Homo sapiens: one gene and its partner. The protein of the gene in region 1 interacts with the protein of each later gene in a pairwise test. Each region holds a gene or a part of one and is shown on either strand. Other genes may lie near its edges.

Region 1 (5,191 bases):
AAAAAAAAAAAAAAATTGAAGTTGCGGCTCGGGGCGGTGGCTCACACCTGTAATCCTAGCAGCACTTTGGGAGGCCAAGGCTGGCAGATCACCTGAGGTTCAAAACCAGCCTGGCCAACATGGTGAAACCCCATCTCTACTAAAAATACAAAAAAATTAGCCAGGAGTGACAGCTGGCGCTCAGGCTCAGCTACAGGATGCCATGACAAGAGAACTGCTTGAACCTGGGAGGCAGAGGTTGCAGTGAGCCAAGATCCTGCCACTGCACTCCAGTCTGGGTAACACAGTGAGACTTTGTCTCAAAAAAAAAAAAAAAAAAATCAAAGTTGCACACCAAATTCTTGAAGAGTTTGTTTACCTCTTGAAGAAAAGTAAGAAATTAAAGGAGAACTTCCATTTTTTACTTGAGGGCAAAAAGAAAATGACCTATTTCTAGAAAACACATAGAAACACATAGTAAAGGTTATTTCAAATATTCAGTGCAATTTACAATTCATTTCATTTCAGATTCTTTCTTTGAAATTTTTTCTAATAAGAGTAACAATACAATTCACCTACCATTTCCCTATAATGATAAATAGAAACAAAAAATACATTAAATACCAATGTACTTATTTAAAAATAATTTTGAATTTTCTTTTTTTCTTTTTTTTTGAGACAGTTTTGCTCTGTCGCCTAGGCTGGAGTGCAATGACGCGATCTCGGCTCACTGCAAGCTCTGCCTCCCAGGTTCAAGCAATTCTCCTGCCTCAGCCTCCCGAGTAGCTGGGACTACAGGTGCCCGCCACCAGGCCCGGCTAATTTTTTTGCATTTTTAGTAGAGACAGGGTTTCACTGTGTTAGCCAGGATGGTCTCGATCTCCTGACCTCATGATCCACCCACCTCGGCCTCCCAAAGTGCTGGGATTACAGGCATGAGCCACCGCGCCCAGCCTAATTTTGAATTTTCAAAGATAATCTATGATTAACAAGAAAGCCTGAAAATAAAGAAATAAATTCGTGGTCAGGCACAGTGGCTCACACCTGTAATCCCAGCACTTTGGGAGGCTGAGGCAGGCAGATCACTTGAGGTCAGGAGTTCGAGACCAGCCTGGCCAACACTGTGAAACCCCATCTATACTAAAACTAAAAAAATTAGGAGGGCGTGGTGGTGTGAGCCTGTAGTCCCCGCTACTCGGGAGGCTGAGGCAGGAGAATCGCTTGAACCCGTGAGGCGGAGGTTGCAATGAGACGAGATCGCGCCACTGCACTCCAGCCTGGGTAACAGAGCAAGACTCTGCCACCAAAAAAAATAAATAAATAATTAAATTCCCATGTCCTAGAATAGTGCATGGCATATAGTTGTTGAATGAAGAAATGAATGAACAAACGAACAAATAAATACCAACTCACCTGGGGTGTAAAAATGAATGTGTCTGAGAAACATGGTCACCTTCCTGCTTTATAACAGGATACCATGACTGTAATTCCATTCCTGATGGTGCATCTGTCTGCAGAAAAACATGGAAGGGAAACATTTATTGAAGTAAAACTGTGAAGGTTAATTTTATGTGTCAACCTGACTGGGCCACTGGGTAAAGACAACTAACATTATTTAAGAGTCATCATGCCACGCACAGTGGTTCACACCTGTATTCCCAGCACTTTGGGAGGCAGAGTGGGGAAGATTCCTTAAGCCGTGGAGTCAGCCTGGGCAACATAGGAAGACCCAGTCTCTTTAAAAAAAAAAAAAAAAAAATTAGCCAGTTGCAGTGGTGTACATCTGTGGTCCCAGCTACTTGGGAGACTGAGGTGGGAGAATCCCTTGAGCCCAGGAAGTTGAGGCTTGCAGTGAACCATGATTGAACCATGATTGCACCACTGCACTCTATCCTGGGCAAGAGTGAGACCCTGTCTCAAGAGTCATCTTCCAATAAGGCAGTCTTCCCTTGAAGAAGCCTGATTATCACCTGAAACTCAGAGACACCCACATGAACTATCCCATCACAAGAACAGTTTCAGTATGCATGCTAACATGGAGTACCAGAAATGACTGCATCAAATTTCATACTTACGAAATCTATTTTATTTATTTATTTTTTTTTTTTTTTTGAGATGGAGTCTCGCTCTGTCACCCAGGCTGGAGTGCAGTGGCGCGATCTTGGCTCACTGCAACCTCCACCTCCCGGGTTCAAGCGATTCTCTGCTTCAGTATCCTGAGTAGCTGGGATTACAGGCACCCACCACCACACCCAGCTAATTTTTTGTATTCTTAGTAGAGATTGGGTTTTGCCATGTTGGCCAGGCTGATCTCAAACTCCTGACCTCAGGTGATCCCTGCTCCTCAGCCTCCCAAAGTGCAGGGATTACAGGCATGAGCCACTGAGCCTGGCCAGAAATCCATTTTAAATAATAGAACTCTATAAAGGTATAGCACTGGAAAATTGATTCTTATTCCTGTACTACAATCGGCTAGACTATACCCTATCCCTACAGTATTTGTTAGCATATTAGCTAGATACCATTCTACAGCAATACTTTGCCAAATTAAATCCAAAACCACATAGTTTGCTAACACTTGTCATTAAACTATATTTCCTAATAAATATAAAAAGGATTTTTTAATACTTAAAGATGAGCTATAACTAAAAATAAAGAAAAATAAGGAGAAAGGTAACTGGTAACTTAATGAACATCTACGGGCTGAGAACTTTATACATCATTCTTAATTCTAACAAATATCCCCCATTAAATAGGTATCATTACCATTTTACAGATGAGAAAACAACTGACGTTCAGAAATTGAAGAGGGGCTCGGTTCAGTGGCTCACACCTGTAATTCCAGCACTGTGGGAGGCCGAGGTGGGTGGATCACCTGAGGTCAGGAGTTCGAGACCAGCATGGCCAACGTGGCAAAACCCCATCTCTATTAAAAACGCAAAACTTAACGAGGCATGGTGGTGCGCTCCTGTAATCCCAGCTACTCGGGAGGCTGAGACAGGAGAATCACTTGAACCCAGGAGATGGAGGGTGCAGTGAGCCAAGATCATGCCACTGCACTCCAGCCTGGGCAACAGAGCAAGAATCGTCTCAAAAAACAAAACAAAACAAAAAAAGAAATTGAAGAGAAAAAAAGAATAAATGATCTGTGGTTACTAACTTCTCCCTTATTTTGGTTTACTTTATTTACACTTTGTCCTCCCTTCATCCCCTACATATTTCCTATTATACGAAATTACCTTGCTTTTGTGGGAAAAGGATACTTAAAAGGGGGGGCAAGACTCACTGGTAAGGGAAAGGGGAAAGAAGGAAAGGAGAGCTGAAATGTGGCATGGTTAAGGTGACCAACAAAAATAGGAAGTTAACAGACAAACCCAGGAAACTGAGGGAGAATGCGATTAGGAACGAGTTAAACAAGGGAAAAAACAAAAAAGAGAGCTGGATATTTCTCTAAACCCTACCTTTAAGAGGTTCCATGGCCAGGCGCAGTGGCTCATGCCTGTAATCCTAGCATTTTGGGAGGCCGAGAAGGGTGGATCACCTGAGGTCAGGAGCAAGACCAGCCTGGCCAACATAGCGAAACCCAGTCTCTACTAAAAATACAAAAATTAGCTGGGCGTGGTGGTACGAGAAGGGTGGATCACCTGAGGTCAGGAGCAAGACCAGCCTGGCCAACACAGCGAAACCCAGTCTCTACTAAAAATACAAAAATTAGCTGGGCATGGTGGTACGCACTTGTAATCCCAGCTACTCGGGAGGCTGAGGCAGGAGACTCACTTGAACCCAGGAGGCGGAGGCTGCAGTAAGCCGAGATTGCACCACCGCACTCCAGCCTGGGCAACTGAGCCAGAATCCATCTCAAGATAAAAAAAATAAATAAATAAATAAATAAATAAATAAATAAAAGAAGCTCCAATTCTGGTCGGGTGCAGCAGCTCATGCCTGTAACTTTGGGAGGCTGAGGGAGGTGGATCACCTGAAGTCAGGAGTTTGAGACCAGCCTGGCCAACATGGAGAAACGCCGTTTCTACAAAAATTAGCTGGACATGGTGGTGAGTGCCTGTAATCCCACCTACTTGGGTGGCCGAGGCAGGAGAATCACTTGAATCCGGGAGGCAGAGGTTGCAGTGAGCTGAGTTCGCGCCACTGCACTCCAACCTGGGTGACAGAGCAAGACTTTGTCTCCAAAAAAAAAAAAAAAGAGAGAGAGAGAGAGTCCAATTCCCAATTCAACAAATTAGGAAAGTAGCAAAGCTGTTTTGCCTGATGTCCCAATATTCCAGTTTGGAACCAAGAAACTAAGGACTGCAAACAGATCTCTGGATGTTAAGCAGTAGTGATTAAAACAAAATCAACTCTAAACTATCCAAACTCTGGTTTGATTACTGAGATCCTACTAATGGAGGAAATCAATGAGAATGAAGAAACCTGGGAGAGATCTGACAAGTAACCCACTGCCCTCAACAAAACAGGCTGAAAACAGAAAGGAAACCGCTCTTAGAATATGTATCTTAAAATCTGATCAGTCAGGAGATGACTTAGGGCCAACTAAAGGACAAAAATAGGCAGGGCACAGTGGCTCACGCCTGTAATCCCAGCACTTTGGGAGGCCAAGGCAGGCAAATCACGAGGTCAGGAGTTCAAGGCCAGCCTGGCCAATATAGTGAAACCCTGTCTTACTAAAAATACAAAAATTAGCCAGGTGTGGTGGTACGCACCTGTAATCCTAGCTACTCAGGAGGCTGAGGCAGGAGAATCGCTTGAACCTGGGAGGTGGAGATTGCAGTGAGCCGAGACGGCGCCATTGCACTCCAGCCTGGGTGACAGAGCAAGACTCTGTCTCAAAAATAAAAAAAGAAAAAAATATGTATGTGGGAGATCTTTATTTTTGTTAAGAATTAGGCCAGGCACAGTGGCTCACACCTGTAATCCCAGCACTTTGGGAGGCCAAGGCGGGTGGATCACGAGATCAGGAGTTCAAGACCAGCCTGGCCAAGATGGTGAAACCCCGTCTCTACTAAAAATACAAAAAAAAAAAATTAGTCGGGTGCGGCAGCAGGCGCCTGTAATCCCAGCTACTCAGGAGGCTGAGGCAGGAGAATCGCTTGAACTCAGAGGGCGGAGGTTGCAGTGAGCCGAGATCGTGCCACTGCACTCCAGCCTGGGTGACAGAGTGAGACTCTGTCTCAAAAAAAAAAAAAAAAAAAAAAAA
Region 2 (4,842 bases), on another chromosome or scaffold:
AGGTAGACCAGAACTCTCATGCTCCCTCTGGGGAGGAAGCCACTCTGGAGGGGAAAACTAGGGCTTCCAGGAAGCCACCGAGCAACTCAGGCATCTTCTCAATTTCCTTACCAGCCACCTGTGTCTTTCTGGAGAAGTCTCCCTCTGTGCACAGATGGAGGCGCACAGCCCCATATCTGTGTTATAATCTGCAGAGAGCAAGCTCTGCAGTCTGGCTGCCCAAACTGAAATCCCGGTTCTGCCACTTGCTGGCTGAGTGACCTTAAGCAAAACCTTTCTGTGCTTCAGTTCCTTTGCCTGTCATTGGGAAGTAACGGTGCCTGCCTGGCAGGGTTTTCATGAGGCGTGAATACGCTCTTGAGACGGGGTCCACCATGTGCACGCGGGAAAGCATGGTGGAGCGAGGATGTAGTCAGAGTCACCGCCGCCGCTGACATCACCACACTGTCGTGATGGAGACCTGGGCCACTGATGCTCTTCATTATGATGCAGTTGCCAAGCTTGTTTCATTGTATCACTTCACAGTTCCATAAGAACAGCAAGGCCAGGTGCAGTGGCTCACGCCTGTAATCCCAGCACTTTGGGAAGCAGAGGAGAGAGAATCACTTGAACCCAGGAGTTCAAGACCAGCCTGGGCAACAGAGCAAGAGCCCATCTCTACTAAAAATTTAAAAACTATTAGCAGCCAGGCTTAGTGGCTCACACCTGTAATCCCAGCTGCACAGGAGGCTGAGACGGAAGGATGACTTGAGCCCAGGAAATCAAGGCAACATTGAGCTATGATTGTGCTTCTGCACTCCAGCCAGGGTGACAGACTGCGATCCTGTCTCAAAGAAATAAATAAATAAATAAACAAAAAGAACAGCTAAGCAAACCGCCTATGATACACACTAAAAAACACGAGTTTTCCACAAAATGACAAGATCACAAACCTTGAGTATTGTCGTTAGCATACTGGATAGTTAAATAAGTGAGCTAACTTCAGAGTTACAACTGACTTCGCTAACAGCCTTCTAAGATGGTTCATGTCTGTCTTTAGGGTGACAAAGGTGCCCCAGGGAGAGCAGGCCTGTATGGCGAGATTGGCGCGACTGGTGATTTCGGTGAGTGTTGCCCGTCCAGTGAAAACAGGGAGTCCACAATTCAGAGCTCTCTGAGCATGTGAGCCAATTTCAGACCTGCAAGTGCTGTTAGGTATTTTAAAACAAATTATTCTTGTTAGGAATATAACAAAATAGAAGTTGCAAAACTCACAAAGTCCCAGTGGAAAGTCCTGTTCTTAGCCGTCTTTTTTGCATGTAACAGGTGACATCGGGGACACTATAAATTTACCAGGAAGACCAGGCCTGAAGGGGGAGCGGGGCACCACTGGAATACCAGGTACGCAAGTTATTTTCCTTGTCTTCATCTTCAACAACAGCCCTGAGCCTTTGTCTAGGAGCCCGACTTGCCAAACAGATCAAATTCAGTAACAACCAGAAAGCACTTGATAGTGAATGAGGTCTTCAAGTCCAATGTGCAAGAAAGACCGTCGTTTTTAATTAAGTTAAATCTGAAGATAAAATCAGGAAGTCTTTCTCTCTCTCTGTCTCTCTCTTTGATACTGAAAAAAGCCAGAATGGACCCTCGGTGGATGAGAATCACTGCAGTCCATAAAGTGTAACTGATGAAAAGCCAGCTAGCACCCTGACTCCCGGAACACCTGAGGGCGTGCAGCAGGTGGTCGCTGACCCGAGCTTCTCAGAAACAGCGAAGGGTCCAGGAAAGGGGGAGTGGGAGTCAGGCCATCGCTTGAGAGAGATATGGAGGCAGCTGACCAGCCCGAGCGAGTTGTGGGGGCCTGGGGCGGCACAGTGCCTCCCTTCCCTTCTGCACATCACTGAGGTTCCACTCCTAAATTCCTGCCTGCAGTGACGTCTCAAGGGGACTGTGATAGTTTTCTTCTTTCTGGGGATTTTCTTTTGGGGGGACCCCACACTGCTCAAGTTGCTGGAGCCCCAGGGGCTTGCAGGGCTGGCCCTGGTGGGAGGGAAGGAGTCTGTCCAGGGTTGGCCAGTGGGGAGACTGCTGGGCCAGTTCTTTATCTAGAAATTGCTCTGGAATGGAAAGACGTGTTCAGTTGAGCACAGGATCAGAGAACCGCCGCTGGGAAATAGGCGCCTCTGTTTACCAGCCCTCCCGGGCTCCTTTGTTATCTGTGACCTGGGCTCCCGGTGGCTTCCTCCTGAGTGACGGGAGCTCTGTACTGCTGAGCCATCCGGCGCTGGGCTGGCTGTGTCTGCCACCCTAGGCCATTAGTCCGGCCATTTGGTTTATAAACACAGAAACGTGGACCATCATTACCACGCGTCTCTAATGATGCCTTCACTTGTTCAACTGAAAATGTGTCAGGGAAGAGACGCTACCCCCACCCAAGAATTATTTTTGCTGTTACCTTTGAACATTTTGGTTTTTGTTAAACTCTGGGCCCAGAAAGGCTTTGGAGTGGAGCCTCCCCTGCATCCATCACCAGAAGACGGTATTTCGGAGCTGTGGTCCCACAATGGAAGGGTGGGGCCAGCTGTACCCATCATCCCTGGGGGTGTCCTGTTTTCCCTAAGACAGTGAGGGGTGCATGGGTACATGGGTGCTGCCTTGGAAGCTGGCTAGTGCAGGCTCAGAGGGAGGAAGTAGGTTAAAAATCAGCTAAGGAAGGAGCACGGTTGGATGCCTCTCTCCATTCCTGAAGGAGCAGCAGTGTGGTTCTGCACATCCTAGAGCCGGGGTTCCAGGGAACCCACAGGGGCGCGGTGTCTGTTTGTTCCAAGCAGCATGTCTGTGGTTGCAGGTCTGAAGGGATTCTTTGGAGAGAAGGGAACAGAAGGTGACATCGGCTTCCCTGGGATAACAGGCGTGACTGGAGTCCAAGGCCCTCCTGGACTTAAAGGACAAACAGGTAAAATCTCCCGCAGCCACACAGCCTTCCTCAGGCAGGCCCTCCGGAGACCCCAGAACAAAGGCGGTCAACATTGTCAATTTCCTCCAATCACACCCAACCCTGGAAGCTCACTCGTGCCTGCTGCCAGCTTAGGAGCTTTCCTCAGTGCTGATGGCATGGAGAGAAACAACCACCTGGGCTGGGGGGAGACCTGAGAATTGGAGAGAAGCATGGGGGTGAATGAGAAGTGCCTCTTCGGTTGAGCCTCTGTCTCTCATATAGAAGCCGACGGTTTGTAAGGGATCCCTTTGCTTGCATTGAATATGCAGAAACCCCTATGAACATCCTAGGTTAGAGAAGGAGAGCGGACAGTGGGCTGGCTTCCCACGCTGTTGCTGCTGCTGCTTTCTGTGTTTACTCAGCACCGGGGAATGCCAAGAGGCTCATCTCTCCAGGCACTGCCTCAGGGTCCTCTCCAGACGTCTATTTGGATAATAGGGCGACAATTAAAACTACACGCTATTTTCTCTCTGGCAAGGCTGAGCAAATCCTATTGAATTTGTATGTGGGGTCTAAGACCACCTGCATCCCCAGCTTGAGGGACAGTTCTAATCTCTCCTCCAACTGGCACTGCGGCCCTTCCGGCCCTCGGCCCCTCCCAGAGCGGCTGCCCCTCCTGCCAGGACCTCACCACACAGCGCCCAAGGTGTCCTGTGTGCTCAGACTTAATGCTGTGTTCACCCCCAGGCTTTCCAGGGCTGACTGGGCCTCCAGGGTCGCAGGGAGAGCTGGGGCGGATTGGACTGCCTGGTGGCAAAGGAGATGATGGCTGGCCGGGAGCTCCGGGCTTACCAGGTAAGGTCACGTAAAACACGTGGTCACCCAGACCCAGAGTCGTGGGCTGTGCAGGAGGCACCGCTGAGCAGGCCAGCCTCTCTCAGGGCGACTTCTAAGGCCCATACGAGAGCAAAGGCAGGTCTGCTGTGGCTTACGGTGGTCTGCACCAACATAGCAGCACAGGGTATACTGGCGCCCCAGGCAACTGGGAATCAAGCCAGATGCACAAATCTGCCCAGGGCTTCACCTCCCAGAAGGATGAATGAAAGCCTCCCAGAGAGGCTTCAGGGTCCACTTGTCATCGCCACACAGGGACGCACAGCAAGATCAGGGTGCAGGAGCAGCCTCAGTGTACCACTGTGCTGCACGGGCCACCCCCGGGGCCTCCTTACAGCCCCGAGACGGGCCACCCTGCCATGCTCACTGCCCATGTAACAGAAGGAATTGCCACCTGTTTGCTGTGTCCTGCTTTAGAAATATTTACCCTCAGAAATCCAGAGGGAATGGAAATGACACCGGGCTATTTGTTCCAAGCAGCTTTTACAAACCAAACATACAGCAGTGGCGAGGCGTCAAGAAGAGGCATGGGACATGTCACTCCCCAGGCCCCTTCTGGCCTAGTGAGTCTGTTAAAAAGATTCTATGAAGACAGTGTTCCAGTTCAATGGTGTTCCTAGGTAACATAAGAGTGCTTAGTTTACATGTCGTGTAAGTTGAGCGTGTGGCTTAGCTGCTTCCTATTTGTGGGGCTTTAGCAGGATTGTATGGGTGACAGTATCAGGTGACAGTTTCAGAGCCAACAAAACACATCTGAGTTATCTTGAGGGTTTCTCCCACCCAGAACCCCCTGTGCTGTCCCACACATGAAATAACAATGAGTGACACCCCCACAGGTGAAATAACGATGAGTGACACCCCCATGGGTGAAATAACGATGAGTGACACCCCCATGGGTGAAATAACGATGAGTGACACCCCCGCAGGTGAAATAAATAACGATGAGTGACACCCCCGCAGGTGAAATAAATAACGATGAGTGACACCCCCGCAGGTTTTCCGGGACTCCGTGGGATCCGCGGCTTACACGG

The links. The genes of interacting proteins can lie anywhere in the genome.
Region 2: the proteins of SKIL (region 1) and COL4A2 interact in a two-hybrid assay, tested with the Homo sapiens proteins (one large-scale study listed by BioGRID and IntAct).

The regions. Positions count from the first base shown.
Region 1 is NC_000003.12:170,377,543-170,382,733, reverse strand, and holds part of SKIL (ski-like protein), read right to left. Parts: intron 1,491-5,191; coding exon 1,393-1,490; intron 1-1,392. UniProt on the Homo sapiens protein: May have regulatory role in cell division or differentiation in response to extracellular signals.
Region 2 is NC_000013.11:110,488,406-110,493,247, forward strand, and holds part of COL4A2 (collagen alpha-2(IV) chain preproprotein), read left to right. Parts: intron 1-1,039; coding exon 1,040-1,103; intron 1,104-1,305; coding exon 1,306-1,380; intron 1,381-2,827; coding exon 2,828-2,935; intron 2,936-3,664; coding exon 3,665-3,772; intron 3,773-4,805; coding exon 4,806-4,842. UniProt on the Homo sapiens protein: Type IV collagen is the major structural component of glomerular basement membranes (GBM), forming a 'chicken-wire' meshwork together with laminins, proteoglycans and entactin/nidogen.